Homo sapiens: one gene and its partners. The protein of the gene in region 1 purifies or fractionates together with the protein of each later gene. This does not show direct contact. Each region holds a gene or a part of one and is shown on either strand. Other genes may lie near its edges. The genes, in order: STK26, ASNS, TNIK, TTC4, PPP2CB, ARPC4-TTLL3 and TWF2.

The links.
Region 2: the proteins of STK26 (region 1) and ASNS fractionate together in Homo sapiens (co-fractionation; one large-scale study listed by BioGRID). This does not show direct contact.
Region 3: the proteins of STK26 (region 1) and TNIK purify together in Homo sapiens (co-immunoprecipitation; one study listed by IntAct). This does not show direct contact.
Region 4: the proteins of STK26 (region 1) and TTC4 fractionate together in Homo sapiens (co-fractionation; one large-scale study listed by BioGRID). This does not show direct contact.
Region 5: the proteins of STK26 (region 1) and PPP2CB purify together in Homo sapiens (affinity purification with mass spectrometry; 2 studies listed by BioGRID and IntAct, with this or other methods). This does not show direct contact.
Region 6: the proteins of STK26 (region 1) and ARPC4-TTLL3 purify together in Homo sapiens (affinity purification with mass spectrometry, with the first as the bait; one large-scale study listed by BioGRID). This does not show direct contact.
Region 7: the proteins of STK26 (region 1) and TWF2 fractionate together in Homo sapiens (co-fractionation; one large-scale study listed by BioGRID). This does not show direct contact.

What each region holds. Positions count from the first base shown.
Region 1 is NC_000023.11:132,056,598-132,061,301, forward strand, and holds part of STK26 (serine/threonine-protein kinase 26), read left to right. Parts: intron 1-4,704. UniProt on the Homo sapiens protein: Serine/threonine-protein kinase that acts as a mediator of cell growth. Modulates apoptosis. In association with STK24 negatively regulates Golgi reorientation in polarized cell migration upon RHO activation.
Region 2 is NC_000007.14:97,854,974-97,859,152, forward strand, and holds part of ASNS (asparagine synthetase [glutamine-hydrolyzing]), read right to left. Parts: intron 3,983-4,179; coding exon 3,881-3,982; intron 3,433-3,880; coding exon 3,305-3,432; intron 1,844-3,304; coding exon 1,717-1,843; intron 487-1,716; coding exon 380-486; intron 1-379.
Region 3 is NC_000003.12:171,078,715-171,083,418, reverse strand, and holds part of TNIK (TRAF2 and NCK-interacting protein kinase), read left to right. Parts: intron 1-1,024; coding exon 1,025-1,168; intron 1,169-3,766; coding exon 3,767-3,901; intron 3,902-4,704. UniProt on the Homo sapiens protein: Serine/threonine kinase that acts as an essential activator of the Wnt signaling pathway. Recruited to promoters of Wnt target genes and required to activate their expression. May act by phosphorylating TCF4/TCF7L2.
Region 4 is NC_000001.11:54,736,361-54,739,860, forward strand, and holds part of TTC4 (tetratricopeptide repeat protein 4), read left to right. Parts: intron 1-1,221; coding exon 1,222-1,304; intron 1,305-3,500.
Region 5 is NC_000008.11:30,788,336-30,793,039, forward strand, and holds part of PPP2CB (serine/threonine-protein phosphatase 2A catalytic subunit beta isoform), read right to left. Parts: intron 2,981-4,704; coding exon 2,862-2,980; intron 1-2,861.
Region 6 is NC_000003.12:9,798,581-9,803,284, forward strand, and holds part of ARPC4-TTLL3 (ARPC4-TTLL3 fusion protein), read left to right. Parts: intron 1-1,604; coding exon 1,605-1,716; intron 1,717-3,080; coding exon 3,081-3,176; intron 3,177-4,704. Other genes in the region: ARPC4 (actin-related protein 2/3 complex subunit 4), read left to right, coding at 1,605-1,716, 3,081-3,176.
Region 7 is NC_000003.12:52,228,461-52,233,164, reverse strand, and holds the end of TWF2 (twinfilin-2), read left to right. Parts: intron 1-1,042; coding exon 1,043-1,221; intron 1,222-1,625; coding exon 1,626-1,721; intron 1,722-1,933; coding exon 1,934-2,038; intron 2,039-2,169; coding exon 2,170-2,295; intron 2,296-3,094; coding exon 3,095-3,245; intron 3,246-3,382; coding exon 3,383-3,504; intron 3,505-3,963; coding exon 3,964-4,131; 3' UTR 4,132-4,553; downstream 4,554-4,704. UniProt on the Homo sapiens protein: Actin-binding protein involved in motile and morphological processes. Inhibits actin polymerization, likely by sequestering G-actin. By capping the barbed ends of filaments, it also regulates motility.

The DNA of each region.
Region 1 (4,704 bases):
GCCCACTTGAGGTGGCACTAGTGTCTAATGAGTGATGCCCATGGAGTGGCCACAGAACTAAGGCTTCAAGCATAGGCATATCTGGAGGGACATGCTCTGGGGCCCAAGCCAATAGTAATACCAACGTCCTAGGTACAAATACCCCCTACTGCTGCACAGAGCTACAGTGGCTCTGAGGGTGGCGTAGGGCCTAGCTATTTGTAACATCTGAGCTGATGTCTGGAGCATAGGCACGCTCAGAGGGACCTTGTCTCCAGAGCCTGGGATGTGAGCTAGCTCACTATGGCAGTGATTAGCTCAAGTGTCTGAGCTGTGGGTGGGTCCAGTGCAACCACTCAGCTGGTCTGGAGTCCAGAACACAGGCTAGCTTTCAGTGGTGACTGTGTGGATGTCTGGAGCATAGGCACACTCAGAGAAACCTTGGCTCCGGGGCCCTGGGGTGTGAGCTAGCTCACTGTGGCAGTGGCTCCAATGTCTGAGGTATGGTTGAGCTCAGTGAAGACGCAGAATCTGGGTCTGGAGTGTGGGCACTAGTGGAGTGGCCATGACTCAGAGGTCTGGAGCTGCATCAGTTTTCAGAGTGGTGGCTTCTTTCTCCATGTGGCTCAACAATGTCTTCTTCTTGAGATGAGAGAGTTTTGTAGTCATGTATTCCTCTTGGGGTTCCCTGGCAGAAATGGCTGTTGACTACCTCAGTAGCAAGAGATGCCAGTGTCCTCTGCAGAGCAGGCCACTGGGGACCATGATGGCTTCTACTGTGTAGTGATACCAATAGCCTCCACCTTTCATCTTTGTTCCTAGACATTTCCTGGCCTCTCAGGTATGCTGATCTCCTCAGTGATCCTTCCTGTGGAGTTATTCTTTCTTTTTTGCTCCACTGTGTTGCTGCAGATTGTTAAATAGGCCCTTGAATCCTTCCAGAGTTACTTGGGTTTGTGGATAGCTGTCTATATTTGGGGGCTTTTTATGTATATGTGGAGGGAGGGGATGATTAAAACTGGTATCTCCTCTGCCGTCTTGGTGACTTTGTCATCGCTTTCCATCTATCTGTATCTATATTGGTTAATACTGATATAGAAATTTATCACAAATTTCACTGCCTGTTTACAAAACCCGACTTATTCTAATATTGGATGTATGTGGTATGAATGCATAGTAGAATGAATCATTAAGCAGCCAAACAGCCACTATATATTACACACTGTATTAGGTGCTGAAGATATAAAAGTGAACAAACTCACTACTGCTGTCAAGGCACTCACAGTCCAGTTTTGCACTGAAATGATGCCAATTTTATGGTTAAAGTATGTACAAGGTATAGATGATGCACAAATTAGTAAGTAGTCACTTCTGTCCTTTTCAGGAGTGGCATGAATAAAAGGCCTCCAAAAGGAGGTGATAATGCTAGTAATTTCTATCCAATTTCAGCATTTACATCTAAGTGTTAGCTATTACTGTATTTTACTACATACATAATTATTTGCTCCTTTGTGTGATAATTTTGCTGTCATATTTGTTCCTAAAAAGCTAATTCAGCCCATCATATTCTTTTTTAGAGATCTCATGAGTGATTACGCAGTCTCAGTAGTTTTAGGTTCTCCTCCTAATTCCCATACAATTCCTTGGTGGTACATGTGTGTGTGTGCGTGTGTGTGTATGTGTGTGTGTGTGTGTGTGTGTCTGTGTGTGTATCATTTGCTCATTCTGGTTTACTCTTTCTGGACTGAATCCCGGTATTTCCAGACTCACTCTAGGGCAAAACTGAATCCTTGCTACTTTTAGGCACCTGTGACAAAAACACTATTTTTGGTTGCTGACCTAAAATATTAAATACGCCCTATTTAAAATGGCTATTCCATAATATATTGAAAATTGGTACTGATATGGTTTGACAATTTTATTGGTTGCTTATTTATTCATATTCAATACTCCCATGGAAAATGAGTGACAGCTCTATCTTCTTTTCCTAAGATTTCATATAGAGTGTTTTTTAAGTTGCACAGTAGTATACATGTACTAGTCACCCAGTATTTACTTAATCTTTAAATAATTAAAAACTAGTTTTTTGTTTGTCCCAAATTTTGATTGTAAAGTGTACTCAGACCAGCCAGTGCTACAAAACCATCGTCCAAGATAGCTTCTTAAGGGATTAAATCAAATTATTTTTATCTCCTTCACCCATCATTAACTAAACTCTATGATATAAAACACTACTTTGAAGAACATGTTGCTTCATGATAAAATTGTAGAAATGTGCAGCTGGCTTATGTTGATTATTTGTGTTCTGAATCTATTTAAAGTAAATAAATCTGTGTGTATATACATATGTCTTGAGACATATGTATATACACACAGAGAAAGAAATATTCTATAATCTTACAACGTTTTCATACCATGTATTTAAATCACTTTCTTAAATTGACCAACTCATTTATTTTCCATTTATATTACAACATAGTATGACTGTGTGGGTTTGTATTTTTTTCTAAACTAAAATCACGTCAAATATAACAGGATTCTGTTTCATGTAGTCAACATAAGTCAAGGCCACATCCTCTTTGTGCCATCAGGGAACTGTGTTATCAGTCAACTTACATACTTATTGTGGCCCATTGTTCCATTTCAGGTGACATGGAGGATTTTGTGAGTCAAGTTAATTGAGCAAACTGGGAAATGGGTTGTTCTTACACAGGATGTCATCCATAACTAAGACCTCACTGTAAGCTGGAGGAAAAGTTTATTACATTTGAGAGAAAATTATATGTTCTTTGAAACTGTATGCAGTTGTAGTGATTTCCTTGAGACATGCAAAAAATGTACTAGGTATTCATTTTGACTAAGCTCACTGTATAACTTCATTTTTGAAAACAAGAGTTAAAAACCAGACAAACACATCAGTATGACCACAGTGTTTTCCTTTAATTTTAGTTCACTGGGCAGATTTTCTTGACAAAGTTAGTCTTTATGAAGAGTGCTAAAATAAGCAAACCCTTCCCTTCTGATCTCATAATATTGGAATAATCTTTTATAATCTTTAAATATTTTTCTAGTTCAGTGTAAATCTTAAAATGACACTCAGGCATTGAATAGAATTTGAATCATGCCTTTATTTGCTGCTGAAAATTGCCTTTAGATTTCTGTGTATGTTAAGGAAATATTGCCTCCCACCCACCATCACCAGTATTTATGAAAAAAAAAAGAATTGAATGAAGTAAAATATTTCAGAATCATCTGTACGGCTTTGTGGCCTTCTCCTTATTTTTCACTGAAACTGTATGTGCTTACAGCCAGTTTATGTATGCTCAATGCCTCTGGAATATTCTTTTATTGTTAACATTTGTTTTGGAGTTCTCTTATAAAACTTGAAGAAAATGGAGGCTAGAAAGTTTGTTCCTTCTTAAAATGTTCTTTTCTCAAAATAGGAATAGCTTTAAACTTAATATAATACACCTCTAAGAAGCCCCATGTTAGATTCAATTCAACAGACGCTTATTTATTAATGCCTACTATGTGTATTCCTCTTCTTTTGCATATTGTGGTTAATCTCATCTACTTTCGTCTGACAACTTCTAAACTGATGTCTCTGGTTTCATCCTCTCTGCTCAGCCCCAGATATGTGTTTATAACTTGCTTCATATTAATAGCCTGCTTATCTGTGAGTACATCAAGTGCAATAACCCTCAAACTAGGGAGGTAGCATTTGAACTAAGTCTTGAGAATGATTTTGATAGGGGTTGGAAGGTGCAAGTGGGGTAGGGACACAGCATTCCAAGCTGGAGGAAAATGACTCAGAAGTGGTAAATTTTCTAGCCATATTCTTGGCAAGATGATCTCTACTGTCACTTCCAGTTTTATAAAGTCTTATGTGCTGTATGTTTTTTTTAATCAGGCAAAATATACTTAACACTAAATTTGCCATTTTAAGTGTACAGCTCTCTGGCATTGGCTACATTCACATTGATTTTGTGTTTTTTTTGTTTGTTTGTTTTTTGGGTGGTTTTTTTTTTGTTTTGTTTTTTTGTTTTGCTTTTTTTTTGTGACAGGGTCTCACTCTGTCTCCCGAGCTGGAGTACAGTGGCGCAGTCTTGGCCCACTGCAGCCTCCACCTCCCAGGTTCAATTGATCCTCCCACCTCAGCCTCCCGAGTAGCTGGGACTACAGGCATATGCCACCACACCTGGCTACTTTTTTGCACTTTTTGTAGAGATGAGGACTCCCTATGTTGCCTAGACTGCTCTCAGACTCCTGGACTCAAGCGATCCTCCCACCTCGGCCTCCCAAAATACCAGGATTACAGGCGTGTTGTGCAGCCCTCACCACCACTGATTTCCAGAACAAATAAGGATTCCTTATTTTCAGATCTAGAAATTGAGTAGTTGTAATTTTAATGCTTAATGGTATATACTACTTTGTAAAGTCACATTTCAAGCTTTCTATGAACACGTTTTACTGACAGACAGTTGGCAAGTTTCTGTTTTGAATTAGTACAAACAAAAAGGCACACATTGTTTTTAACTTGGAAAACAGGTGCTTTCATTCATGCAGAACTGCAAAATAGGCAGGCATGTTTTATAAGATCTTTTTCTTTTAAATGTCAGGTGAATGGGAAGCTCTCTGAATTCATATGATAGAGTATAGTACTTGTTAGAAACAAACTTGTGGCAGAAGAAACAATTTTTAACCTATCCACCATTGTAAGAACCA
Region 2 (4,179 bases), on another chromosome or scaffold:
ACTTTTTTTTTTTTTTTTTTAAGAGACGGGGTCTTACTCTGTCAACCAGGCAGGAGTGCAGTGGTGCAATCACAGCTCACTGCAGCCTCAATCTCCTGGGTTCAGGTGATCCTCCCACCTCAGCCTCCTCAGCAGCTGGGGGTATGAGCATGAGCCCTCATACCCAGCTGTAACTAGTTTTAAAGAATAAAAATTATCTGACACATTAAAATTTCTTTCTTCCCCAAGAGATAGAAAGCAAACACTATCAGATTCCCTTTTGTAACCTCACAAGATACTCAAAAATATCACTGTCATACTGAAAGATGATAGAAAATAGTCAAACAATTCATACTTTTCTTAATATAGCATGAATATCCCTCCACTTCAGAGTGGTTACCTTGTGAAAATATATGTAACCCTGCGTAAGTTCATCTGATCCTTCTCCAGAGAAGATCACCACGCTATCTGTGTTCTTCCGAATATACTTGGAAATTAAATACATACCTTAAATGAGAGAGAGAAATTAACTTTAATGTCAACATAACCTTCCACCAAAAATGCCTTTGATTTGATTTTTGGAAATAATTGAAAGCTTTACTACTATACTGGACTTCATATTAATATAAAGTAGTTTCCACAATAATGACCTTGTATTTATAAGCCATTTATATGTACTTAATCCAAAAGTACTACTGTAAAATAAAATAACCCGGAACCATTTTGTCATTTTCTAAACAGGTTTTAAAATTCTAATGTTTTTAGACCAAGAATGTCCACCTCAAAACTTTGCTAAGCTGAACAATGACTCAAATACCTAAAAATCATGCCTTTCATAGTGGTATTATGACACAAAAATAAGAATAACCGTTTTGGTGGTTTAGTGTTAATTTTGATGGGTATTTTCCCCCTGCCACTCCCCATTTACCAGATTTCACATAAAGCTGGGGAGACTATATAAGTTATTAAACTTGCCTCCTTGGTCCTGCACCACATCTCTCTAAACCAGTGTTTCTTCTCAACCTTGTTTTTATTATCACCTCAGCTAGAGAGCCTTTTTAGACACTTATTTTCCTAACCTCACCCCAGCCCCATGAAATTCCAATACCAGAGCTATCCTGTCTATCTGCTTATTTACTGTGATGTTTTGGAGGGCCATAAACCATTGTAATACCTAAGATATTTTTGCCTTCCAAGGCAAGTCTCTCAAGGGAGGCAGTAGCATATAAAGGCTCAATAACACTGGATCAGTCTGATTTGGGGTATACTTCCAATCTCAGTAGATACATTATCTACAAGATAAAATTAGTATTGTTTGCAGAGCAATGATAGCTAGTGACTGGTAAGTTGTGTGATGGAATATATCTAAAATGACTATTTCTTATCAAAAATGCATTACCAAAAAGACCTATTTCCTCACTGTATATAGACTGTAGCCCAAGAAACTATAAGAGAAATGGGAGGTAGAGGGCAGAAAATATGTATCTGCTCCCTGGGGAAACACCAACAGTGACACCAACAATGTGGAGGTTGAACTACGTATTTACTATTCCCTTCACTCCAAAAGAGATTCAGAGAATTCTTAAGTGGTCTTAAATAATCAGTAACATAGGGATTTAATTTGCATTCATCCTTAAATAACATTTTAAAACTATGGCTTGAAATAATTTTTTTAAACCTTACATTTTTTTCAGTATTAAAAAAAGCTTTTTATTTAAGAATATCATAATACCTTACCTACTGAAGCACGAACTGTTGTAATGTCATAAGTTTCCAAGGAAAATATGACTTCATCCAGAGCCTGAATGCCTTCCTCAGAGTTAAAAAGGACTTCATAATGTTCACTTCCAATATGATCTGCCACCTTATTATATAAAGAAATACCCATTTACTTGTTAAAGAAAATAACTTCCCTTGAAAATCAAACATGATGGGAGTTCACAAAGCTTTATGAATTAACAATGGTGAAAACTAAACAAGGGAAAAAAAGAAAAATGACTTTACAGCCCACCACATACAAGCCCCATCCAGCACTGTTCCCTCGCCTGCTTCAACTCCACCACCAGGAAGTAAGTCTCCCCTCAGCTCCTCTGGTGCCAAGGCTTCAACCATTCTCCCAGTTGGCACCTCCCTCTCTACCTATTTTACCTAACCCACCTCATCTCTCTCTAGTCCAACATGGTCCCACGCTAAGCTTGGTCTTTTTTGGTCCTTCTTAAATGCCTAATTTTATATCCAGGATGTTATTCTTATATAGAATGGCCCTTCCCCTCATTCTGCTTTCCTTGGCTATTTTGGATTCTCTCGGCATTGATTACCTTGCACTGAGACTGCTCTCTAGCTTTTTCTCATCCATGCTACGAAAGTCCTCCATAGTGGGAACTAGGTCTCCCGCTCACTGAATACAGACAAGCTGCCCTCTGCCCACAGTATTCTAAATACAGTACTTTCAAAAATAATAATAACAGCTAACACTCATTAAGTACTTACTACATGCTAAGTTCTACCCTACTTACTTTACATGAATTATATCATTTCACCTTAAAATTTCCCCATAGCAGACACTATTATTTTGGTTACATAAATGAGTAGAGCCAGGATTTCAAACCACAAGTCAGGTTCCAAAGTCTGCAGTCTTAGCCATGATACTATGCCTTTACGTTTAAAAAAAAAAAAAAAAAAAAACGAACAAAAAACCCGTTTTTTTAATTTTTCAAGATGGGGTCTTGCTACGTTGCCCAGCCTGGACTTGAACTCCTGAGCTCAGACCTCCCCCCACAGCCTCCCAAGTATCTGGGACTATAGGTGTGTGCCACTGCACCTGACTTATGCCTTTACTTTCTTTTTTTTTTGAGACAAGGTCTCACTCTGTCACCCAGGCTCCCATAAGGCTAAGACTACAGGCATGCGTCACCAAGCCTGGCTAGTTTTTGTATTTTTTTGTAGAGATGGAGTTTCATTATGTTGCTCAGGCTGGTTTCAAACTCCTGACCTCAGGTAATCTACCTCCCTCAGCCTCGTAAAGTGCTGGGATTACAGGTGTAGGCCACCATGCCCAGACACCTTTACTTTCAAAAGAGCATACTTATCATCATAGGGTCTTTGTGAGAATTGCATGGGTCATAACAGATAAAAGTACACAGAGGACAGTGTACAACACAGTGCATATCCAACAGCCATTTCATTCTATTTTAATACAATCAATTTAAAACAATTGACCCAGTCAATACAGCAGCAGTAGAATCACCCATTATTGACTCCATTTTCATTCTAATAACAAGTCTACTCTAACTACACTACACAAGGGACAGAGACAGCACCTTACCTTTCTAGCAGCCAGTAAATCGGGGCTGTCTTCCATGCCAATTGCAAATGTCTGGAGAGGATACTGTACTTGGGCTTCTTTCAGCTGCTTCAACAGAGTGGCAGCAACCAAGCTGGAGTCCAAGCCCCCTACATGCAAAAGAGGAAGTGGAAGTGTCCTAGTTATGTGCCTTGCATAAGACAGGGACAGAAGATGTATATTCCTGATAAACACCAAGATCATAGTTTTACTATTTAAAATCCGCCAAGTTTTATAAACTGAAATCAACTTCAACAAGAGAAAAATATATAAACTGTGATAATAGTAGTATTTGAATTGGTTAAAAATCACTACACAGAATTCTAAAGAACATTCACTGACTCACTCTTAACACCAATAACATAGCTATAGTGTAACTCAAGTTGGAGTATGACTATGACTATTAAATACAGCTTATAAAAAATCATTTCCATCCTATAATGAAGGAAAGAGTAAATCATACAGTAAATATTTTATAGTAAAAACCAAAGGGATGGCTACAAATCATTTCAATTAAACACACATGAAATATAATTAGGTTTTTTTAATTGACTTCACCTGATAAAAGGCAGCCAATCCTTCTGTCTGTCATCAAACGTTTCTTTACAGCATTATTAAAAAGGATCCTGAGGTTGTTCTTCACAGTTTCTATCTCAAAACCTATAAACACAGCAGTAAATCAAACAGCTCCAGAAAATCTTGGGCTGGATTAGTTATTGAAATGAAATACACAATCATCAACATCTATCATGATGGTATTTACTCAATGGTGGAGTGTGCCAAATCTTAATGTGTTCCCTCCAAACAAAATAGGAAGTAGGTCTTGAAACTAAAATCATTCAAATGATGGGAGAATA
Region 3 (4,704 bases), on another chromosome or scaffold:
GGGAACCATAATTTTAAAAGGCTGAAAGCATTTGAGATGTTAGCGGGGAAGAGTGTGAAGCCTAGGAACCATTTCATGATAGAGGCTCTGTCCTCTGGAGAAGAGACAGAAGAGAACAAGATAGCCACATTTAATACTGAAAGGATTAATATATGGACAAAAAAGCAGACATTTGTGTTGATCAGAAGATAGAAGTACAAGACGTAAGAGAAGTTAGAGAGTTACATGTTCATGAATAAAGTACACTGCACAATGAGCCTCTCAATGTGTGTGTGTGTTGAGGGGTGGATGATACATTTCCCTAGCCATAAATTTTTAGGATTACAACTACCCAGACAAAGCCACTTATGTGCCTGTGCTTCTGTAATAGGGATTACTGCATGGGTGTTGGGCTGCACTAGATTTAGAGACCTGAGAAGTCCCTTAAAGTGAGTATGTCTGTGACTCTCCAGCTATTAACACTTCTCTTGAATGGGTTTATCATTTCCCTAAAAAAGAGCAAAAACTTGAGGGTATGGGGCATAAGATAGTTACATTTTGATTCAAGAAGGAGGAAGGGCCTTTCTTCCATTGGAGTATGGAAATGGAAATTCCACTGTATATTGAAGGTGGGTAGGCTAGAGACCACTGCATAGGGGTGGGGGTGAATCTTGGGGAAGAAGAGAAGTGATTTATAGGGAGAGCCAAGAAAGAAGTGGTTTTTCCAGGCAGGGAATAAAGGCAAATTATGCTAGCTTCACATCTGTGCCTAAGGCTCCTATTGACAAGGACTCTCTGCATTAGGTAGTAAATAACTAGATGTATGAATGCTGCTAACTTTATAAAAGAAAACTGTAATTTCATTACCAGAAGTACAATGATTTAATTATTATGTCAGAGCTTCTACATTCATTAGTTTATATTTACCTACTTGCCCATTAGTGTATATTTACAAGTCACAGTTTCTTAAATTTTATAGGGACTCTCGATGCAGAAGATTAAAGTTCATGAAAAGTCAGTCTTAGGGTGCTTCTTAAATTTACAGGTGTAAACCTTCTGGTGGGGACTGAAAATGGCCTGATGCTTTTGGACCGAAGTGGGCAAGGCAAAGTCTATAATCTGATCAACCGGAGGCGATTTCAGCAGATGGATGTGCTAGAGGGACTGAATGTCCTTGTGACAATTTCAGGTATGTTACTAAGATGATGAGTCCCCCAGGTCCATACAGCGGGAAAGGGATCCACCTCATTTCTGCAGAAACAGTTAGTTCTGCCCTTCCCAGCTAACAAACAACACAATAAAGTATAGCAGTATAGCCAGAGTGAGATTGCCCACATTTTGTAACACTGGGAATTCTGACCTCCAAAAAGAAGTCTCTCACCTCTGCATTAAATCTGAATTAGGCAGAGACATACCACAAAGGCTATATATTTATAGCTCTTTACCTCTGTCAGGACTCAGCAAGGATCTTCGGATGTTTTTAAGGTTTCTGCACTCCAGTTATTACCACATACAGACAGAATATCAAAATGCAGGCTTCCTAGAGGGACATTTAGTAAGCAGAAATTTCTTGGTCTCTTCCCTCAAAAATTCTCTTGCTTATAGCCCACTGATGTTTTGGCAGGTGCAGCTGGCACACTGGGTGATCAAGTCTACAAAAAGATTTGAGTGTGGGAATCATTACTGCTATGCTCTGTAGCTTTCTGATTCCCAAAAAGAGCCTTATATAGGAAAAAAAAAAAAAGATGGAGACTAAAGTGAAGGCCTTGTAACAAGTTAAAAATGCAACCTAAAAGAGGGTAGTTTTGTTGAAAGTTTTTTTTCTTTTTGGTATTTGAAGGAGTTTAACGAGTAACACCCGTCACTTCCCCTCTCATTCCATCTAGTATGGAACCAACTTGCTACTGCACTTTATAATCACCTAGGGAGATGTGAAAATCTAGGCTGCACCCCCAGACCAGAGTCAGAATCTCTGGGGGTGGGGTTTAGGCATCAGGAGCGTTCATAGTTTCTGATGTGTTTCCATTGTACAGCCAAGTTTGAGAACATGGATTTATGCTCAGCCATTGTTTCACGAAGAGACAACACAGGGATGCTGGTTTGAACTTTCCTCAAAGTTCAGCTGTACTTCCATTTTGACAAAATGCTTTTGCTTGTCACTAAACTTCCTCTTTCTTTTACCTTTCCACTGAATGCTCAGTTTCATCTCTTTTTATTCTCCCCAAATAAGGTTAACCAGGTAAATTCCTTTTGTATTGCCATTTGAGTTTAATCCCATGTAGTCTTTTGTTCTGGTTAATTGCTGTCCTGATTGCTATACTACCAAATCAAAATGAAAACTGCATATCTGCCAAAAGTGGGAATGCAACCAGAAAATTCACATTCAGACTTCATTATGTTGTTAGTGGCACATCTTCATTCTTAACAGTGTAAGAGTTTCCTTTTCTCATGAGGCACAGATAGGGAAAGGAGAAAATGAAAATAGGAGCAAAAGATTCTTGAACTAACCTTGGATTCATATTGGCATAGAAAGGAGGAAACACTGGCTCTCGTGTCCATCCTAGCTACTGTGATCAATGTGGATTCTAGGCCTTTGGTTACAAAATTGAATACTGACCACACAATGATTCCCTTAGTTTAGGTGATGAATGTGCTCTCCTGTCAAATGCATGTGTAATGCTTTACTAAGTTCTCTTCTGCTGGTATATATTCATCTATAAAATATAAAACATTTTTTTTGGGAGAGGCCGAGGCGGGCGGATCATTTGAGGTCAGGAATTCCAGACCAGCCTGGCCAACATGGTGAAACCCCATCTCTACTAAAAATATAAAAATTAGCTGAGCATGCTGGGAGCGGCACCTGTAATCCTAGCTACTTGGGAGGCTGAGGCAGGAGAATCGCTTGAACCCAGGAAGCAGAGGTTGCAGTGAGCCGAGATCATGCCACTGGACTCCGGCCTTGGCGACAAAAGTGAAACTCATGTCTCAAAAAAAAATAAATAAATAAATAAATAAAACATTTTTAAAGCCTAAGATAAAGAAAAATAAGTATCCAAAAAATAAAACCCATAGAGCTAAATTTATCATTAGTTAGGAAGAGTCATCCCAATGGACATTTTATCTGGTGCAAATCATCAAATGGAGTATATCAAGTTTTGCTACTTGTGTACTCTTCAATATTGTCTAAATATTTTATCATCCTATGAATTCTTTATTCCAAGATCACTTTACCAAACGGAAATTTAAGTTTTCAAGTTTGCATCCTTTTTTTCCTATTTTTGTTCAGTATTCCTTTCAGTGACTTCAGCACCATAAACCTGCCCAGTATAATTTTCTGAACCCATATTATCCTCTTGTTTGTTATTAGGTTATACGGTGAAGGAAAGGCAGGTGCCAAAATGCCCAGTTGCCAACACTTCTTCATGTGATTGATCTAGAATGTTCTGGAACTCTGATCACTCTGTTGAAGAGTTAGCTCTTACTAAGTTCAGCAGACACTGCTTTGCATTGGGAAGAGAGAGTAAGAGCACATGCTCAAATAAGAAACCACCTGAAGATAAAAGACATTGTAATTCTGTGATGTGTCTAAAACACGTAGAGCTATTTTAACCATAAGTTCTGGCAGAAACACCATTTTAATGACAAAGTGCTGGGGACACTGGTTATTATGCCTTCATACACACACACACACACGTAAATAAAATAAATTAGAAATAAATGGAGGTGGGGAAGGAAAAAGTGAGAGCTGTCACAGCAATTTGAAATTAAACCTCTATTATTTCAACAGGAAAGAAGAATAAGCTACGAGTTTACTATCTTTCATGGTTAAGAAACAGAATACTACATAATGACCCAGAAGTAGAAAAGAAACAAGGCTGGATCACTGTTGGGGACTTGGAAGGCTGTATACATTATAAAGTTGGTAAGTCTCAAGACATGGAATTATAAGTTTGGTCTGTTTACTCAATCAGACTTACTTAGTTAGGTTTCACCTAGTTTTTTCTATCAGATTGATGATGCATGTGTGACCAGCTTCAGATGTTGCTGGAACCTTCAGCATTATTTATATTTTTTAAAAGCCAGATTGATGAAATTGAAAGAGTGCATTCAGAATAAAGTCCTAGGCTCCAGTTTGAACATTTATATCTACTTTCTTCCAAAGACTCATTAAAATGACAAGAAAAGAATAAAAATGCCATAAGCCTATGAGGACAGTGGGACCAAGAGAAGAGAAGAAATGTCGGTAAAATCGAAAGAGTAGCTGAGTGACTGGAAAAAGACCTAGAATACCAGGAAATTCTGAATTCTGAATCTGCAGTGAGGAAAATGATCAAAATCAATCCAACAGAACCTGGAAAGGCCCAGGAACTAAGGCCCCAGGGGAATCTCAGGTGGAAGTGGAGGTGTAAGGTGGGACTGAAAATAGAATTGTTAGAAAATTCATGAGCAGCAAGTCTTCCAGAACCCAGTCTCCACCTCTGAGTAATTAGGCCACTACCTTCCTCTGCTGCAACAGAAGATGAAAGGTTTGCACAGCCAATATGATGCTGGGAATACTTGTGAAAACACACACACATACACATCCCTCTAACCCCTACTTAGCTCCCAAATAGCCATGCCTATACTCCCTGGGAAGAGAATGTAAGAAATGTCTTTGGAGAAACTAAATGGCCAGAAAGAAAAGATGTACAGGTACTAACATTTGAAGTGCCATGAAAAAAGCTT
Region 4 (3,500 bases), on another chromosome or scaffold:
TTGTTCTTTTTTTGTTTTTGTTTTTTTGAGACAGAGTCTAGCTGTGTTGCCCAGGCTGGAGTGCGGTAGGGAGATCTTGGCTCACTGCCAAGATCAACCTCCTGGGCTCAAACAATCCTCCCACCTCAGTCTCCCAAGTAGCTGGGACCACAGGCGTTTGCCACCGTGCCCAACTAATTTTTGTATTTTTAGTAGAGATGAGGTTTCACCATGTTGCCCAGGCTGGTCTTGAATTCCTGGACTCAAGTGATCCACCTGCCTCAGCCTCCCAAGTGTTCAGATTACAGGCATAAGCCACCATGCCTGGCCTGACTTTATTATTCTTAATATAGTTATTTGTTTGATCAGTTCCCCTCCTGTCATCACCACTGGCCCCTCTCCTATGTGGAGCCTTCCTCACCCTACTTGGACTCTTGACTCCACATGTTACGCTGCTGCCCCAGCGTGGGCGTCTTTCTCACCCCGCACAGACTCTGACATCCCACACTGCTCAACGACCCTACATGGACATCCTCCTCATCCTGCTTGGGCTCTGACACCCTACAGCAGGCCACCCCCTGCCATGAGTGGTCACCCTCCTCACCCTAGTTGGGCCTGTAAACTCCATATTACTTGTCCCCATGCATGGATACCCTTTTCACCCCACATGGCCTCTGACACCCCACCTTGGACAGCCATCTTACAAGGGAGCACTTCTTCCCCTGCTCAGGCCTGCTGGCCCCCAGCATGGATGCTCTTCTTCACTGGTCCTGCTCTGACACCCCCGGGAGCTTCCTGTGCAGGCGTCTTCCTCACCCTGCTTGGGCTTTGACACCCTGCACAGACATCCTTCTCTCCTTCTTCAGGCTCTTTCCTTCTCTGAGCCACCATAGCTTTCTCCTCCACATACCTGATGGCTTTAGTCTGATTTGTTAGGGAAAGGAGGGCTACATAGGCCTGGCCTTGAGTCTTGATTCTTCTGTTTACCAGCAGGGTAATGTTGGCAAGTTGTTGTTCTTCTCTGAGCCTTGATTCTGTCTTTGGAAGATGGAACTGATAATAGCCTCTTTTACAGTGGCATGGCGGGGGGGTACTAAATGCAAAGCACCCAGCTACACAACCATATAAAGGAGGCATTCAACTACTAACCGTTGCCATCTTTTTAATTTTCCCTGGGCTTAGCCTCAACTAAGGCTGCCGAAGCCTTTATCTCTGACTCTTGCCCTTCTGTTAATCTTGCAGGTCTACTTTGAGGATGAGGACAGGGCAGAACTATACCGGGTGCCTGCCAAGAGCACCTTGCTACAGGTTCTACAGCACCAGAGGTGAGTCATCTCATGGCGCTGAGTAGATTGGGGAAGATGCTCAGTGTATTAGTCCATTTTCACACTGCTGATAAAGACATACCTGAGACTGGTCAGTTTATAAAGAAAAGAGGTTTAGTGGAGAACTCACAGTTCCACGTGGCTGGGGATGCCTCACAATCATGGCAGAAGGCAAGGAGGAGCAAGTCACCTCTTACGTGGATGGCGGAAGGCAAAAAGAGAGAGCTTGTGCAGGAAAACTCCCTTTTTTTTTGAGATGGAGTTTTGCTCTTGTCGCCCAGGCTGGAGTGCAATGGTGTGATCTCGGCTCACTGCAACCTCCACCTCCCAGGTTCAAGCAATTCTCCTGCCTCAGCCTCCTGAGTAGTTGGGATTATAGGCACCTGCCACCACGCCCGGCTAACTTTTGTATTTTTAGTAGAGACGGGGTTTCACCATGTTGGCCAGGCTGGTCTTGAACTCCTGACCTCAGGTAATCCACCTGCCTTGGCCTCCCAAAGTGCTGGGATTACAGGCATGAGCCACCACTCCCGGTCAAAAACTCCCATTTTTCAAAGCATCAGATCTCGTGAGACTTAGTCGCTATCACGAGAACAGCACAGGCAAGACATACCCCCATGATTCAGTCATCTCCCACCGGGTCCCTCCCACAACACATGGGAATCATGGGAGCTACAAGATGAGATTTGGTTGGGGATACAGAGCCAAACCATATCACTCAGGCACCATCCGAGGAGTAGAGCCAGGTTCTCATTCCGCTGCTGACTGATTGCCTCATACTCCCCTCCCTTCTGCCCTGAGCACAGAGCTGTGTGAGACAGCAGCCATGGAGACTGGCCGGGCCCATAAAACTCAGCCATTGGTCAAACAGGCTCCAGTGTGATGATAGCCCACTGCACCACAGCCATAACACTCCAGACCAGGGGAGATAAATAGGACTGGTCTTTGAAGGGAAAAGCTGCCTGGCTTTTTGTACATGAAGGCTGCTAGGATGGCCTTTTTTTTTTTTTTGAGACGACATCTCGCTCTGTCACCCAGGCTGGAGTGCAGTGGTGCGATCTTGGCTCACTGCAACCTCTACCTCACCCCCCAGGTTGAAGTGATTCTCCTGCCTCAGCTTCCTGAGTAGCTGGGATTACAGGCGCCTGCCACCATGCCTGGCTAATTTTTGTATTTTTAGTAGAGACGGGGTTTCACCATGTTGTCCAGGCTGGTCTCAAACTCCTGACCTCAGGTGATCCACTCACCTCGGTCTTCCAAAGTGCTGGGATTACAGGCGAGCCACTGCACCCGGCCAGCCTTCCTTTTCCTAATCGTACCTATACCTATGTCTCCTGATGCTCTTTCTTTTGTTTGCTTTTTCTTATTTTGAATTTTTTTTTTTTTAAATAGAGATGGGGTTTTACCATGTTGGCCAGGCTGGTCTTGAACTCCTGGGCTCAAGCAATCCACCCACCTCAGCCTCCGAAAGTGCTGAGATTACAGATGTGAGCCACCACACCCAGCCCCTAAAATTTTTTTTTAAATTATTTTTATAATAGAGACAGGGTATCTTCTCCAGGCTGGTCTTGAACTGGGTTCAAGCAGTCCTCCTGCCTCACCCTCCCAGGTAGCTGGAATATCAAGTGCATGCCAGTGACCCGGCTCCTGATACTGTCATATGAAGAAAGCATTGGCTCTTGAAGTCAGACCCATCATCATTTACTGGCTGTGTGACTCCAAGCACACGCTGCCTCTCTGGGACTGCCGCCTCATCTCTGGAATGGGAGTAATACATGCCTACACATTTCTCAAGTATTTGAGAGCCAATGACAGGATAGGAGTTGAAGTGCTGTTGTAAACTGCACAGGGCAGTCCTGCTATAGGAGGGCATCTTTGTCATTAGCAGTGGCAGCAAGTTGGATTTGGCAGTTGTCTCAGAGAAGCTGTGAGGTGTTCCTGGACTATAAGGGAAAGCCCTCAGCAGATTTGCAAATTGACTCTTGGACTACTTTTCCTTAAGCTTTGAGCAAAGCAAAGCAGAGAAAAGCAGATGCTTTTGCACTTAAGCTAAAAGAGCCCAATGTATTAGTGTAAAGAGAGTGGTTGGATGTGGTAGGAAATGAGGCTAGAAAGCTAAGTTAGGGCCATACACGAAGGCCTGAATGCCCTGCTAAGGAGCGTAAACTTTATCCTGATTGTGGTGTACACCAGGGT
Region 5 (4,704 bases), on another chromosome or scaffold:
TCATTGCAGCCTTGATCAACTGGGCTCAAGTGATCCTCCATCTCAGCCTCCCATACAGCTGAGACTACAGGTGCTTGGCACCATACCTGGCTAATTTTTAAATTTTTTTGTAGAGACGGGGTCTCCCTATGTTGCCCAGGCTGGCCTCAAGTGATCCTCCTACTTTGGCTTCCCAAAGTGTTGGGATTACTTGTGTGAGCCACAGCATCCAGCCATGTTAATGATTTCTAATTTCATTTCCTTGTGTTTGGAGAATATCCTTTTAAGAATCTAATCTTCTTAAATTGCCTGAGGCATGTTTTACAGTCTAGCATATGACTATGTTTCATGTTTACTTGAGAGGAAAGTATTCTGCTGTTGTTGGGTGTTGTTTTACAGACATGAGGTATACAGTCAGTTTACAGTGTTGCTCAAGTCTTCTCCTGCCTTCATCTCCTGCCTAGTTGTTCTATCCAAGAGAAACAGTTTCTGTTGCTTAGTTTTTTCCTGTGTAGAGGTCACACTTCCTTGTTCTTTCCATGTCTTATAATCTGTGGTTGAAAAATTGGACATTATAGATAACATATTGCAGTAGCTCTGGAATTCATGTCCTTGGGGACTGATCTTGTCTTTTTGGTGGTTTATTATTTTTGTTTAGTGACTTAGCTGAACTAACTGTAAAGTCTACTTCCCCCATAGTGTGCAGCCCCTGTGGCCCTGCTCGGATGTTTTTACTTTTTTTTTTTTTTTTTGAGTTTCACTTTTGTTGCCCAGGCTGGACTGCAATGGCGTGATCGCCGCCGCCTCCCAGGTTCAAGCGATTCTCCTGCCTCAGCCTCCTGAGTAGCTGGGATTACAGGCATGCGCCACCACACCCAACTAATTTTGTATTTTTAATAGAGACTGGGTTTCTCCATGTTGGTCAGGCTGGTCTTGAACTCCCGACCTCAGGTGATCCGCCCACCTCGGCTTCCCAAAGTGCTGGGATTACAGGCATGAGCCACCGTGCCTGACCGTTTTTACTTCTTTTAATCTTTCACAGCCTGGCTACTGAGGGGCTGTCTCTGGGTAGGCATAAGCCACTTACTGATCAAAGATTGTACTTAAGCCCCCTTGGCCAGTTAGATCTTAAAGCTCACCCTAATGGCCACCGGAAATGTTATGTGACTTGCAGATTGCTATCAAAGCTGAAGGAGTTTATATTTTGGCTTCCCATTCAGCCAGGGACTAATAGTTGGATCTTCATACTGCACTCAGTCCAGAGAGGGTATAACCTTGGGCATGCACATATTCTGCCAGACTGTCAGGGATGAGTGTGATTTTATTTTAAAGCCTGACTACCTAGGAGGTGCTCCTGGATCAGAGTAACTGAATGTCGTTCAGTCAATGATGAGAGGTTGTGTTTAAGCCTCACATACTAGTGATGGTTACACCATTTGTTGATCAATCTACTTATCCATTTCCTGGGGCTGCCGTAACAAATTACCGAACTGTATAGCTTATACAACGGGGATTTATCCTCTCACAGTTCTGGAGGCTACAAGTCTGAAAGCAAGATGCTGGGAGGACCACGCTCTCTCTGAAGGCTCTAGGAAAAATCCTTCCTAGCCTCTCCCTAGCTTCTGATGGCTCTGGCAATCCTTAGCTGGTAGATGCATCACTTGAATCTCTGGCTTCACACAGCATTCTCCCCTGTGTGTGTTTCTTTTCCTCTTACTAAAATCCCATTCGAATTGGATTTAGGCCCACCCTAATCCAGTACAATCTCATCTTTAATAATTATATCTGTAAAGATCCTATTTCCAAATAACATCACATTTTGAGGTTCTGGGTGGACATGAATTTTTTTGGGGGGACATTATTCAACTCAGTACAATCTATGTGTGGCTTGAAAATATTATATGAATACCCCACATCCTACTCTTGACTGCTCCTGAGTGGGTATGGCTAGTGCATGTGCACAGCCTTCTTGTCCCCCAGGGCTGACTGTGATCCCAGAAGGGCTCTTCTTGGCTTTTTCCCTGGTGCTATTTGTTGAACAACATGTTGCTCTGCTCTTTTGTATGTTGCTCCTAGTATCATGGGAGCTATTACAGCCCTCTTAATTGGTCTCCACCATGACATCTACTGCTTTCCACAAAGCACTCAGATTTGGAATTCTCCATCACCTAAGTAAGATAAGTCCTCTGAGGCAGAGCTGAGGAACTTCTGTGACCTGCCTTTCCTCCTGAGCAGAACTTCTGTGCCAGTGCAGGCTCAGTGATACCACCTGGTTTATAAGCAGGTGCTGGGGTAACAGCATTGGGAAACCCAGCATTCTCATCTGCCATGCATGCCTGGAGCAGAGCTTCTGCCCCAGGAGCTGGGGCAGGGAAGGGGGCCTCAGCCTGCTTGACTGTGTCTACCAGGAGTAGAGCTTTTGTAACTCCAGACTAGGAGAGGTGAGATATGCTGGCATCTGATCTCTGGGAGTGAACCCACAGCCCCAGCCCTGGGAGCTGATGAAGAGGGGGAATCCCTTAGCCTCCTGACTATACCAACCCAGCGTAGAGCGCCTGTAGTCGTTTCTGTGAGAGGGATCTGGGAGGAGTTGGAGGGGGCAAGTCATAGCTCAAATGCCACAGACTACGGCTATTATTACTGAGATTTAGTAGGTTTTCTTGAATTAACTGTTTCTCCACCTGCTGTATGCCCTTAGGACAATTTCCAAAAGCTTTGAAAAATTATTTTTTAAAAATAATGTTCTCCAGCTAATGGTTATTTTTGCTGGAGAGGGGCTTTGCTATACTCCTCATCCAATTTCAGAAACAGAAATCTTCTATTTTTAACATTTAAAATTTTCCTTCTGAAAGTATATACAATTAAAATTTACAGTTACTCACAAGGAATATTTTAAAGTGTCATCTAATTCCATGATAGCAGCCTGGTTCCCACAACGATAACAGTAATTGGGTGCACTGAAAATGGTAACCACATTCCGATCATGACACCAATTGTATCCCTGCAGGATAAAAACAAATTCATTATTTCATTATAATATTATGATTTTGACACAGACACATTTAAAAAAAACTAAACTCAAAAACTACAGGTACTCTCTGTGGAAATGTAGTCGTCTATATTACTATATAAGGTCTCCATCTTTAATAGTTTGTGTACCTGTAAAGAATACTGTGCAATTCGTGGGCCTAGGAGTCTGTTAAATGCAGCTCGCTAATTGTTGTTTTGCCGTATCTATGCTTGAAATCTTGGCAAGGATGTGTACTGAATTTCTCCCACAATCATAATTAATTTCTCAATTTTCCCTCATGAATTATGCCAATTTTTTCTTTATATATTTTGAAGCTATTACTAGGTAAATACAAATTTAGAATACTTTCTTCCTAGAGAACTGGGCCAGTTTTCATCAATAATCTCTTTATTTCTAATAATACCTTTTATTAGAGCCTATCTCATTCATATTATTAGCTATAGTATTATATATAGTGTGTATACATACATGCTAATTAATGTATGTGTATATACATATGTATATATACGTGTATATATGTATATATGTGTGTGCATATATGTATACATGTGTATATACATGTGTATATACATACACGTATATATGTATGTATACATGTATGTGTGCGCATATATGTATACGTGTGTATATGTGTATATATACGTGTGCATATATGTATACACACATACATGTGTGTATATATGTATACATATATATACATACATTAGTGTATGTATGTGTGTATATACACACACACACACATCCTGTGTTGCCCAGGCTGGAGTGCAGTGGTGCGATCTAGACTCACTGCAACCTCCAACTCCTGGGTTCAAGCAATTCTCCTGCCTCAGCCCCGAGTAGTTGGGACTACAGGTGCGTGCCACCACACCAGGTTAATTTTTTGTATTTTAGTAGAGACAGGATCTCACCATGTTGCCCAGGCTGGTCTCGAACTCCTGAGCTCCAGCAATCCGCTTGCCTCAGCCTCCCAAAGTGCTGGGAATAGAGGCACGAGCCACCACGCCAGCTCATTAGCTATATTTTTGATATTTTGATTAATTACTTGATATACCAATATACCATTTTCCAACTCTTACCTCTAGTTTGTGGTGTCTTTTTCTTTTTCCTCGTTTTTTTGAGACAAGGTCTCACCCTTTTGCCCAGGCTGGAGTGCAGCGGTACGATCATAGCTCACTGCAGCCTCAACCTCCTGGCCTCAAGTGACCCTCTCACCTCAGCCTCCTGAGTAGCTGGGACAATAGACATATGCCACCATGCCCAGCTAACTTTTTGACTTTTTTTTTTTTTTTATATAGAGATGAGGTCTCACTATGTTGCCCAGGCTGGTCTGAAACTCCAAGACTCAAGAGATCCTCCCACCTCGGCCTCCCAAAGTGCTGGGATTATAGGCATGAGCCACTTTGTCCAGCCAATCATTTATGTTTTAGGTACATCCCAAATAACAGCTAAATTTTGATTATTTATCCAATCTAAGAGTCTCTTTCAGGCTAAAATTTTAGTCTCTTTCTTATAATCACTGATATAATTAAATTTATTTTTACTATGTAAATTTGTGTTTTTTTTATCATGCTCCCTTGTTTCTACTGGGCTGGCGAAGTTTTCTCTAAACATCTTGAAGCCACTCCCTACTGGTCTGCAGGGATTATGTTGTTTATGTTCCCTTAGTAGTTGTATAACAGTTAATATTATAGTGG
Region 6 (4,704 bases), on another chromosome or scaffold:
AAATAAGTAAATAGGCCGGGCACAGTGGCTCACGCCTGTAATCCCAGCACTTTGGGAGGCCGAGGCAGACAGATTATGAGGTCAAGAGATCGAGAGCATCCTGGCCAACATGGTGAAACCTTGTCTCTACTAAAAATACAAAAATAAGCTGGGCATGGTGGTATGCACCTGTAGTCCCAGCTACTCGGGAGGCTGAGGCAGGAGAATTGCTTGAACCTGGGAGGCGGAGGTTGCAGTGAGCCAAGATCGTGCCACCGCACTCCAGCCTGGCAGCAGAGCAAGACTTCGTCTCAAAAATAAAATAAAATAAAATAAAATAAAATAAAATTCATTCTGGTACATACATAACTGAGATAATCTGGGTTACAACATTAAATGATACGATTTAATTTTTAATTTTAAAAATAACTGATAAAGATGTTAGGATATGCCCTGTTATACTGTGTAACGTACACGATTTCCAGTGGGCCTTTGAAAATGGTTAGCAGTTTAGAGACACCACACCACAATTAATTACTATTAGAGATCTCTAGGTATTCAGAGGCATTACTTTGTAACCTGAACTCATAGGGGTCTCAGAGGCAAATGAATCATTTCTGGATTGATAATTAAAGGAAGCCAAACTGTGTTCAATTTTAGCCTTTCCTTACCTCTAAGACAGGTGTTCTCTCTGTATTCCTAAATGGTATATTGGTTTGCCTGTACAGGTTGAGTATCTCTTATCCAAAATGCTTGGGACCAAAAGTATTTCAGATTGTGGAATATTTGCAGATACTTAACCAGTTGAGCATCCCTAATTCCAAATCCAAAATGCTCCAATGAGGATCTCCTTTGAGCATCTTGTCAGCACTCGGAAACTTTCAGGTTTTTTTTTTTTTTTGAGATGGAGTTTGATTCTGTCACCCAGGCTGGAGTACAGTGGTATGATCTTGGCTCACTGCAACTGCCACCTCCTGAGTTCGAGCAATTCTCGTGCTTCAGCCTCCTGAGTATCTGGGATTATAGGAGTGCGCCACCATGCCCAGCTAATTTTTATATTTTTAGTACAAATGGGATATCACCATGTTGGCCAGGCTGGTCTCGAACTCCTGACCTCAGGTGATCCACCAGCCTCAGCCTCTCAAAGTGCTGGGATTACAGGCATGAGCCACTGTGCCCAGCCAGTTTCAGATTTTGGATTTCAGATTTGCAGATTGGGGATGTTCAACTTGTAGTTACTAAAATAGCTATCTTTTGTAAAGCTCCTACTATGTGCCAGGCACGCTATTAGACATTTGACCCTTTTTGATCTCTCTCAGTCCTCGCCAGTGAATTAGGAATCAGAGTCATTTTACAGATGAGAAAATTGAGATTCCAACAGGGTAACTTGCCCAAGGAAAGTAACAGAGGAGGCTGGATTTCAAAACCTTTTCGCCCTGACTTCAGAGCCTGTGCTCTTTCTGCTGAAGAACACACTCACTGGCCCCCATCTTGGAGCACTCCTGCTTGTGAGTCTTCTATTCCTTGGACTCTATGGTCTCATAGTGATTCCAGGACCTGCGTGGGGTCACTCTGACTATTCTATCCCTCTGTAGTACAAGTACTCTGTCACATTATGTTTTCAGGAGTAGCAAAGAGCTCCTGTTACAACCTGTGACCATCAGCAGGAATGAGAAGGAAAAGGTTCTGATTGAGGGCTCCATCAACTCTGTCCGGGTCAGCATTGCTGTGAAACAGGTAAGTTCACCATGGAGGAGGCCCAACGTAAGGCCTCTTTCAGTCCTTTCAGCCTCTTTCAGTCCGGGGTCCCCATCTGAGAGATCAGTGTGCCAGATTCCAGATTCAGAGTGCAGGAAACCTAGCCTCTGCTTCCTTTTTTTTTGACACGGATTCTCACTCTTGTCGCCCAGGCTGGAGTGCAGCAGCATGATCTCAGCTCACTGCAACCTCTGCCTCCCGGGTTCAAGCAGTTCTTCTGTCTCAGTCTCCCAAGTAGCTGGGATTACAGGCATCCGCCACCACGCCCAGTTAATTTTTGTATTTTTAGTAGAGACAGAGTTTCACCATGTTTGCCAGGATGGTCTCCATCTCCTGACCGCAGGTGATGGGCCCGCCTCAACCTCCCAAAGTACTGGGATTACAGTCATGAGCCACCATGCCTGGCCAGTAGAGGGCAACTCTAAACTTTCAACAGGATGAAAACGAAGCACTGTTATTAAATGCAGACTACACACTGTTTTCTACAGAAACTTATAAACCTGGGGCCTGCTTTCCTTGCTAAAATGGGAGGTTAACAAGTGTTGAGAGGTGTTAAGGGCATGCTAGCAACCAGCAGCAATAATCTTCCTTTAGAAATGTTGAGAGTTCAGGGCCAGGCACAGTGGCTCATGCCTGTAATCCCAGCACTTTGGGAGACCAAGGCGGGTGGATCACTTGATGTCAGGAGTTCAAGACCAGCCTGGCCAACATGGTAAAACCCTGTCTCTACTAAAAATACAGAAATTAGCCAGGCGTGGTGGCACGCGCCTGTAATCCCAGCTACTTGGGAGGCTGAGGCAGGAGAATCGCTTGAACCCGGGAGGCAGAGCTTACAGTGAGTCAAAATCGTACCACTGCACTCCAGCCTGGGTGACAGAGCGAGATTCCATCTCAGAAAAAAAAAAAAAAAAAAAAAAAAAGAAATGTTGAGCATTCAGAAGGGAGAAACTTCAGGGATTGTTGGATGTTCAGTGTTATTAAAGCAGAGACCACCTAAGGTTATCTCTGATAGCCCAGGTGATGCTGCAAAACACCCTGGGAAATGTGACACTAGTGAAATGAGAATGGAAAGGGCAGCTTGGAGTACAGCTGTAGACTCTGAAAGAAGCAATAGAAGCCTGTCAGAATTACCTCTCTGGAATGGGTCGTCATTAAGAGATGCCCCAAGGTAGACCCTTGTTTCAGTTGACAGCCAGGTCCCCCACTTCAGTGATCCTTCCGAGTACCAAACCTCACTGTCTCCTGGGAGCCTTGAAAAAACTGGAGTCAGAAGACCAGGCTACAAGGTGTTTTTGGCCTTGGGTGTCAGCTTTAGAGAAACATTTCTCTCTTGCACTCCCCAGGCTGATGAGATCGAGAAGATTTTGTGCCACAAGTTCATGCGCTTCATGATGATGCGAGCAGAGAACTTCTTTATCCTTCGAAGGAAGCCTGTGGAGGTGAGACCCTGTGACCCATGAGTTTGCGATACCCAGGACCCTGTTACAGAATGGCCTGGGATTGTTTCTAGAACCAGCTACTCCAGCTGTTTGGCACCCACTGCCTGAATTGAGAGTTGGCCTTCATCTTGGAGTGGGAGCAAAGAGGATTAGAAGCTTAGGAAAAGTTGGGTCTACCTCAGCCATAGAAAAGGCAAAAAAGAGCCGGGCGTGGTGGCTCATGCCTCTAATCCCAACACTTTGGGAGGCCGAGGTGGGTGGATCATGAGGTCAGGAGTTCAAGACCAGCCTGGCCAACATGGTGAAACCCCATCTCTATTAAAAATACAAAAATTAGCTGGGCATGGTGGTGGGCGCCTGTAATCCTAGCTACTCAGGAGGCTGAGGCAGAGAACTGGTTGAACCTGGGAGGCGGAGGTTGTAGTGAGCCAAGATCGTGCCACTGTACTGCAGCCTGGGCGACAGAGCAAGACTCCGTCTCAAAAAAAAAAAAAAAAAAAAAAAAGGCAAAAAAGATAAGACACATTGCTTATTCCCGGAGCCTATAGTCTAGCATCAGAAAGAGCACAGTGAATTAGAAATCCTTTCTAAGATCTGCCAAATGAATCATAGTCTCTCTCTCTTTTTTTTTTTCTTTGAGACGGAGTCTCGCTCTGTCGCCCAGGCTGGAGTGCAGTGGCACAATCTTGGCTCACTGCAAGCTCCGCCTCCCGGGTTCACGCCATTCTCCTGCCTCAGCCTCCTGAGTAGCTGGGACTACAGGCGCCCACCACCACACCTGGCTAATTTTTTGTATTTTTAGTAGAGACGGGGTTTCACCATGTTAGCCAGGATGGTCTCGATCTCCTGACCTCGTGATCTGCCTGCCTCGGCCTCCCAAAGTGCTGGGATTACAGGCTTGAGCCACCGCGCCTGGCCTTTTTTTTTCTTTTTTTGAGATGGAGTTTTGCTTTTGTTGCCCAGGCTGGAGTGCAGTGGCGCAGTCTCACTGACTGCAACCTTCCACCTCCCAGGTCAAGTGATTCTCCTGCCTCAGCCTCCCGAGTAGCTGGGATTATAGGCACGCATGTGCTACCATGCCCAGCTAATTTTGTATTTTTAGTAGTTTCATTGTGTTGGCTAGGCGGTCTCAAACTCCTGACCTCAGGTGATCCGCCTGCCTCGGCCTCCCAAAGTGAATCATAGTCTGCAATCTGGGCTCACTGCAAGCTCCGCCTCCTGGGTTCACGCCATTCTTCTGCCTCAGCCTCCCGAGTAGCTGGGACTACAGGTGCCCGCCACCATTCCCGGCTAATTTTTTGTATTTTTAGTAGAGACGGGGTTTCACTGTGTTAGCCAGGATGGTCTTGATCTCCTGACCTTGTGATCCGCCCACCTCGGCCTCCCAAAGTGTTGGGATTACAGGCGTGAGCCACCGCGCCCGGCCCACTGAATCAGTCTCTTAAAGCCACAGTTAACATTGGGTCAGTTGTTGCCTGAATTTGTACTTGAATCTTCTCCACAGACTCCTTGCCAGGTAAACTTAAAA
Region 7 (4,704 bases), on another chromosome or scaffold:
TGTATACCCAGGCTGGTGTCTGGTGCCCAGATGAGGTCCCAGTCTACAAGTGCAGCTGGATGCCCCATTTCAGCCAAGGAGCTAGCAGGCCTGTGGGGCCTAGGCACTTAGATGGTGGCTGCTTTGGATCTGCGACATTTTCTTTCTTTTTTTGAGACGGAGTTTCGCTCTTGTTGCCCAGGCTGGAGTGCAATGGCGCCATCTCCTGCTCACCACAACCTCCGCCTCCTGGGTTCAAGCGATTCTCCCACCTCAGCCTCCCGAGCAGCTGGGATTACAGGCCACTACACCCAGCTAATTTTGTATTTTTAGTAGAGACGGGGTTTCTCCATGTTGGTCAGGGTGGTCTCGAACTCCCAACCTCAGGCGATCCGCCTGCCTCTGCCTCCCAAAGTGCTGGGATTATAGGCGTGAGCCACCGCGCCCGGCAAGGATCTGTGACATTTTCGAGGGGACTGCAGCTGGCAGGTAGCCGCAGGATGTCTGTTTATCCAGGGTCTGGTAGGAGCCCCTGCTCCTCCTTTCCAGAGGCTTTTACCCCTGTAGGTCCCTGTGGCCTGGGGCTGTGACCTGCCCCTCAGCACATTTGTCCTGAGGGGAGTCTGCTGCGGTTCTTCTGCTGGAGCCCCAGGGGAGGAGGCGAGCAGGAGGCAGTTTCGTGGGGACTGTGGGCTGAGCAGCTGTGCGGTGGGGATGGGGTCCAAGGGAGCACCCAGGGGTGTGGTGTCCGTGAGGGGCTGACGGCTGCGTGTCTTTGTGTGGCTGTTTGTGTTGGTGATCTGCGCACGTGTGTGTGTGTGGGGGGGTGTGTGCACGCGCTGGGGATGTGCAGGGGGGCAGCCCCCAGGTGGCAGCTTTGTGCCTTCCCTTGCTCACTCATTCAGCCACACAGCCTCACACTTCTGGGACCTGGGGGCTCCAGGGAAGGTGAGGGGCAGCCGGCGGCTCTGAGCCAGCTGGGCAGCCACGGCGAGGCTGGAGGTCTGCAGCGGGAGGCGCAGTGGGAGCTGGGAGCGGCTGCTCATCCGGCCTCTGCCCCCAGAGCAGCTCGTGCTGGGTGCCTCGCAGGAGCCAGTAGGCCGCTGGGATCAGGACTATGACAGGGCCGTGCTGCCACTGCTGGACGCCCAGCAGCCCTGCTACCTGCTCTACCGCCTCGACTCACAGAATGCTCAGGGCTTCGAATGGCTCTTCCTCGCCTGGTCGCCTGATAACTCCCCCGTGAGTCCTGGGCCAGTGGGAAGTGAGGAGGGGAGCTGGGGCTGAGCCAGGCAACAAGGCCTTGCCCTGGGGGATCCAAGAGGGGACACAGGCCTGCCCCTGGAGGGTGGGGGAAGAGCTGTCAGGCCGTGCCCTAGGGAGTCTGAGAGAGGGTCAAGTCCCTGTGCCCGCAGCCTGGGTACCTCTTGCTCTCCAGGCATCAGCCTGGCTCCGGAGGCTGTGATCAGGCTGGACGAGGGCTCCCCCTGCTGGTGGGGGCCACCTGCTGCGTCCTGGCCCCGGGCTGGCCCTCTGCCAGGTGTGCCAGCGCAGTGAGCCCACCGAGTTCCTCCAGAGGCACCTGTCTGTTCCGGGAGAGGCAGCCCTGCCCAGAGGCCTCTTACGGTTTGGCCCTTGCCCTTCAGGTGCGGCTGAAGATGCTGTACGCGGCCACGCGGGCCACAGTGAAAAAGGAGTTTGGAGGTGGCCACATCAAGGATGAGCTCTTCGGGACTGTGAAGGTAATCCTAAGCCAGGACTTACCGGGACACAATCCTGGGCCCACAGAGAGGGGTCACTGTGCAGGGTCAGAGAGCAAGCTAGTGCCAGCTTCGGGAGGAAGATGGGGGCGCTGGGGGAGTCCAAGGGCTGCAAGCTGGCGTGCTCCGTGGGCCTCCTCTAGCCAATCCCCAGGTGCCCATTTATGGCTCTGCATTCACCCCCACCCCTGCAGGATGACCTCTCTTTTGCTGGGTACCAGAAACACCTGTCGTCCTGTGCGGCACCTGCCCCGCTGACCTCGGCTGAGAGAGAGCTCCAGCAGATCCGCATTAACGAGGTGGGTGGGGAGCAGAGGCCCCAGCCTTGAGCCCTCAGGGTCATATCGGCCCAGTGGCAGCCTGTGCTGCCTGGGAGCCACACCCTGCTTTGGGCCGGTGAGGGCCTCCCTCACCATTCCCCTACCCACAGGTGAAGACAGAGATCAGTGTGGAAAGCAAGCACCAGACCCTGCAGGGCCTCGCCTTCCCCCTGCAGCCTGAGGCCCAGCGGGCACTCCAGCAGCTCAAGCAGAAAATGGTCAACTACATCCAGATGGTGGGTGCCTGCTCCCTACCCTGGCACATGCTGCCACCACCCCTACTCCTGCCCATGCACATGTGCAGATGTACATGGAGTCCCCACTCCACCAGCCTGCAGTCTGTCCCCTTCAGCTCGTCCATGTGCTTGTGGGAACACATGGTCCACCCCACCCCTCCCTGATCCCTACCTATTCCGCCTGGGGCGCAGACACTGTGTGCACATAGATGTGTTCTGGTCCCTTGTCCCCAGGCCCTGCTCATACACAGGTACACCTGTGAGCACACTGCCCCATTCCGCCCTCCACCCATACCCCTGGGGTCACACTGACCCCTCAGCCCCGAGGCCCTTCCTGTCAGAGATCCCCTCTGTTGTCTCCTTGACCACCCCGTTTCCCTAGGCAGGGTCCTTCTGCCCTGGCTGTTCCGGCTGCCGCTTTCAAGCAAAACGGCTCCTCCCTTCCAAGATGCTTCCGCCAGAGGCCTTGCCTCTGAGGATGGGCTGGCCCAGTGGCAGTATCTCCCTGAGGTTGTGACCCTCCACACCATCCTGTCCCAGGAGTCACTACCGTTGACTACCCTTGGTGGGAGTTCCTTCTCTAGCACAACCTTCAAAGGGGCAGAGTTGGGGCTGGGCCCAGGACTGGCCTCTTCAGAGGGACCCCCATAGAGGGATGGCCATTGCAGGGGAGTCTTGGGAGAGGGAGGTCACATCAGGCTCCTGCCCACCAGCTAATCCTGTTTGAGGGCTTCCTGGGGAGAGGGGCCTGGGCCCACCCCGACCTGGTGCTCTCCCATCTTCCCTTGGCCCTGGGCAGAAGCTGGACCTAGAGCGGGAAACCATTGAGCTGGTGCACACAGAGCCCACGGATGTGGCCCAGCTGCCCTCCCGGGTGCCCCGAGATGCTGCCCGCTACCACTTCTTCCTCTACAAGCACACCCATGAGGGCGACCCCCTTGAGTCTGTAGGTGAGTGGCCATGGCAGGGCTCCCAAGCCTGTGGCTGGGTGGGAGCAGGGCTGGTCTGCAGTGGGGCAGGCCTGCTCTGGGTGCGAAGGTCAGCAGGTTTCTCAGGCCTCCCAGGCTCACCTCCTGCCCCCCAACAGTGTTCATCTACTCCATGCCGGGGTACAAGTGCAGCATCAAGGAGCGAATGCTCTACTCCAGCTGCAAGAGCCGCCTCCTCGACTCCGTGGAGCAGGACTTCCATCTGGAGATCGCCAAGAAAGTAGGCGCCCTCCCCAGGGCCTCACCTCCCCAGGCCCTATCACTCCAATCTCCATGTGGGGCGCTGGGGTCCTGAGATGACGGCAGAGCAGGAATCGTTGCTGTCGTGTTGATCATAGGGCATCTGAGGCCCAAGGAGCAACACGCATGGCCCAAGGCTGCCCAGCTGATCGGTGGCTCAGAAAAGTCCAAGTCCTGGCTACCATGTCATGTCCTTTCCCTGGGCCTGGAGACAGGGAGGAGGTGACCCCAGCGAGCAGAGTCCAAGGCATGCAGGGCAGCAGGCCCTAAGCTCTTGCTTTCCTGGGAGTGGCATTCCAGGTGGGGAATCAAGGGGAGACCTCAGGAGACCCCAGGGCTAGGATGTGAGAGTAAGGGGTGCCCCAGGAGTGGGGGCTACCAGGGGTGGTGTGTGTCAGAGCCCCTCCCATTGGGGTGACCACTGCCTTGCCCCATGCAGATTGAGATTGGCGATGGGGCAGAGCTGACGGCAGAGTTCCTCTACGACGAGGTGCACCCCAAGCAACACGCCTTCAAGCAGGCCTTCGCCAAGCCCAAGGGCCCAGGGGGCAAGCGGGGCCATAAGCGCCTCATCCGCGGCCCGGGTGAAAATGGGGATGACAGCTAGGAGGCTGGAGCAGGGCCGGCCACGTGTGGACTGTGGGGCTGCCCACCTTCCGCTCCCTGCCACCATCCTCCTTCCTGGGCTCCAGGAAAGTGTTTCTGGGAGGTCAGGAGGGCTGGCAGCTGAACGCACTTGCAGCGTCCGAGGGCCACCGGGCTGGCATTTTGTGACCCTTCCCTGTTGCTGTCCCTGCATCTCGTCTGTGTGCCCAGGGTGTCCGGGGACCCTGCCTGGCTGGCTTAAGGGGGCTGGGTCAGGGGCCTGGCATGAACCTGGCCTCCCGGGGAGCTGAGACTAGGGTCCCAGCACAGCCCAGAAACCTTTGGCCACAAGAAGTGGGGTCAGTCAGGGCTGGGGCAGGGGTCACTGCAGTTTGGGATGGTTGAATGCTGTATTTTCTAAAGAATAAAATATTTTTAAATCAAGACTTGTGCTTGGCCCTGAGAGACCGCCTCTGGCCCTGGGAATTGGGCAGTCTTGTGCATATAACTGTCCTTTCCCAACAGGGGAGAGGGGAGTGCCGGCCTGCGAGGTGGAGCCCCAGCACTCCACCTCCAGGTGTGTGGGAGAGGCTGT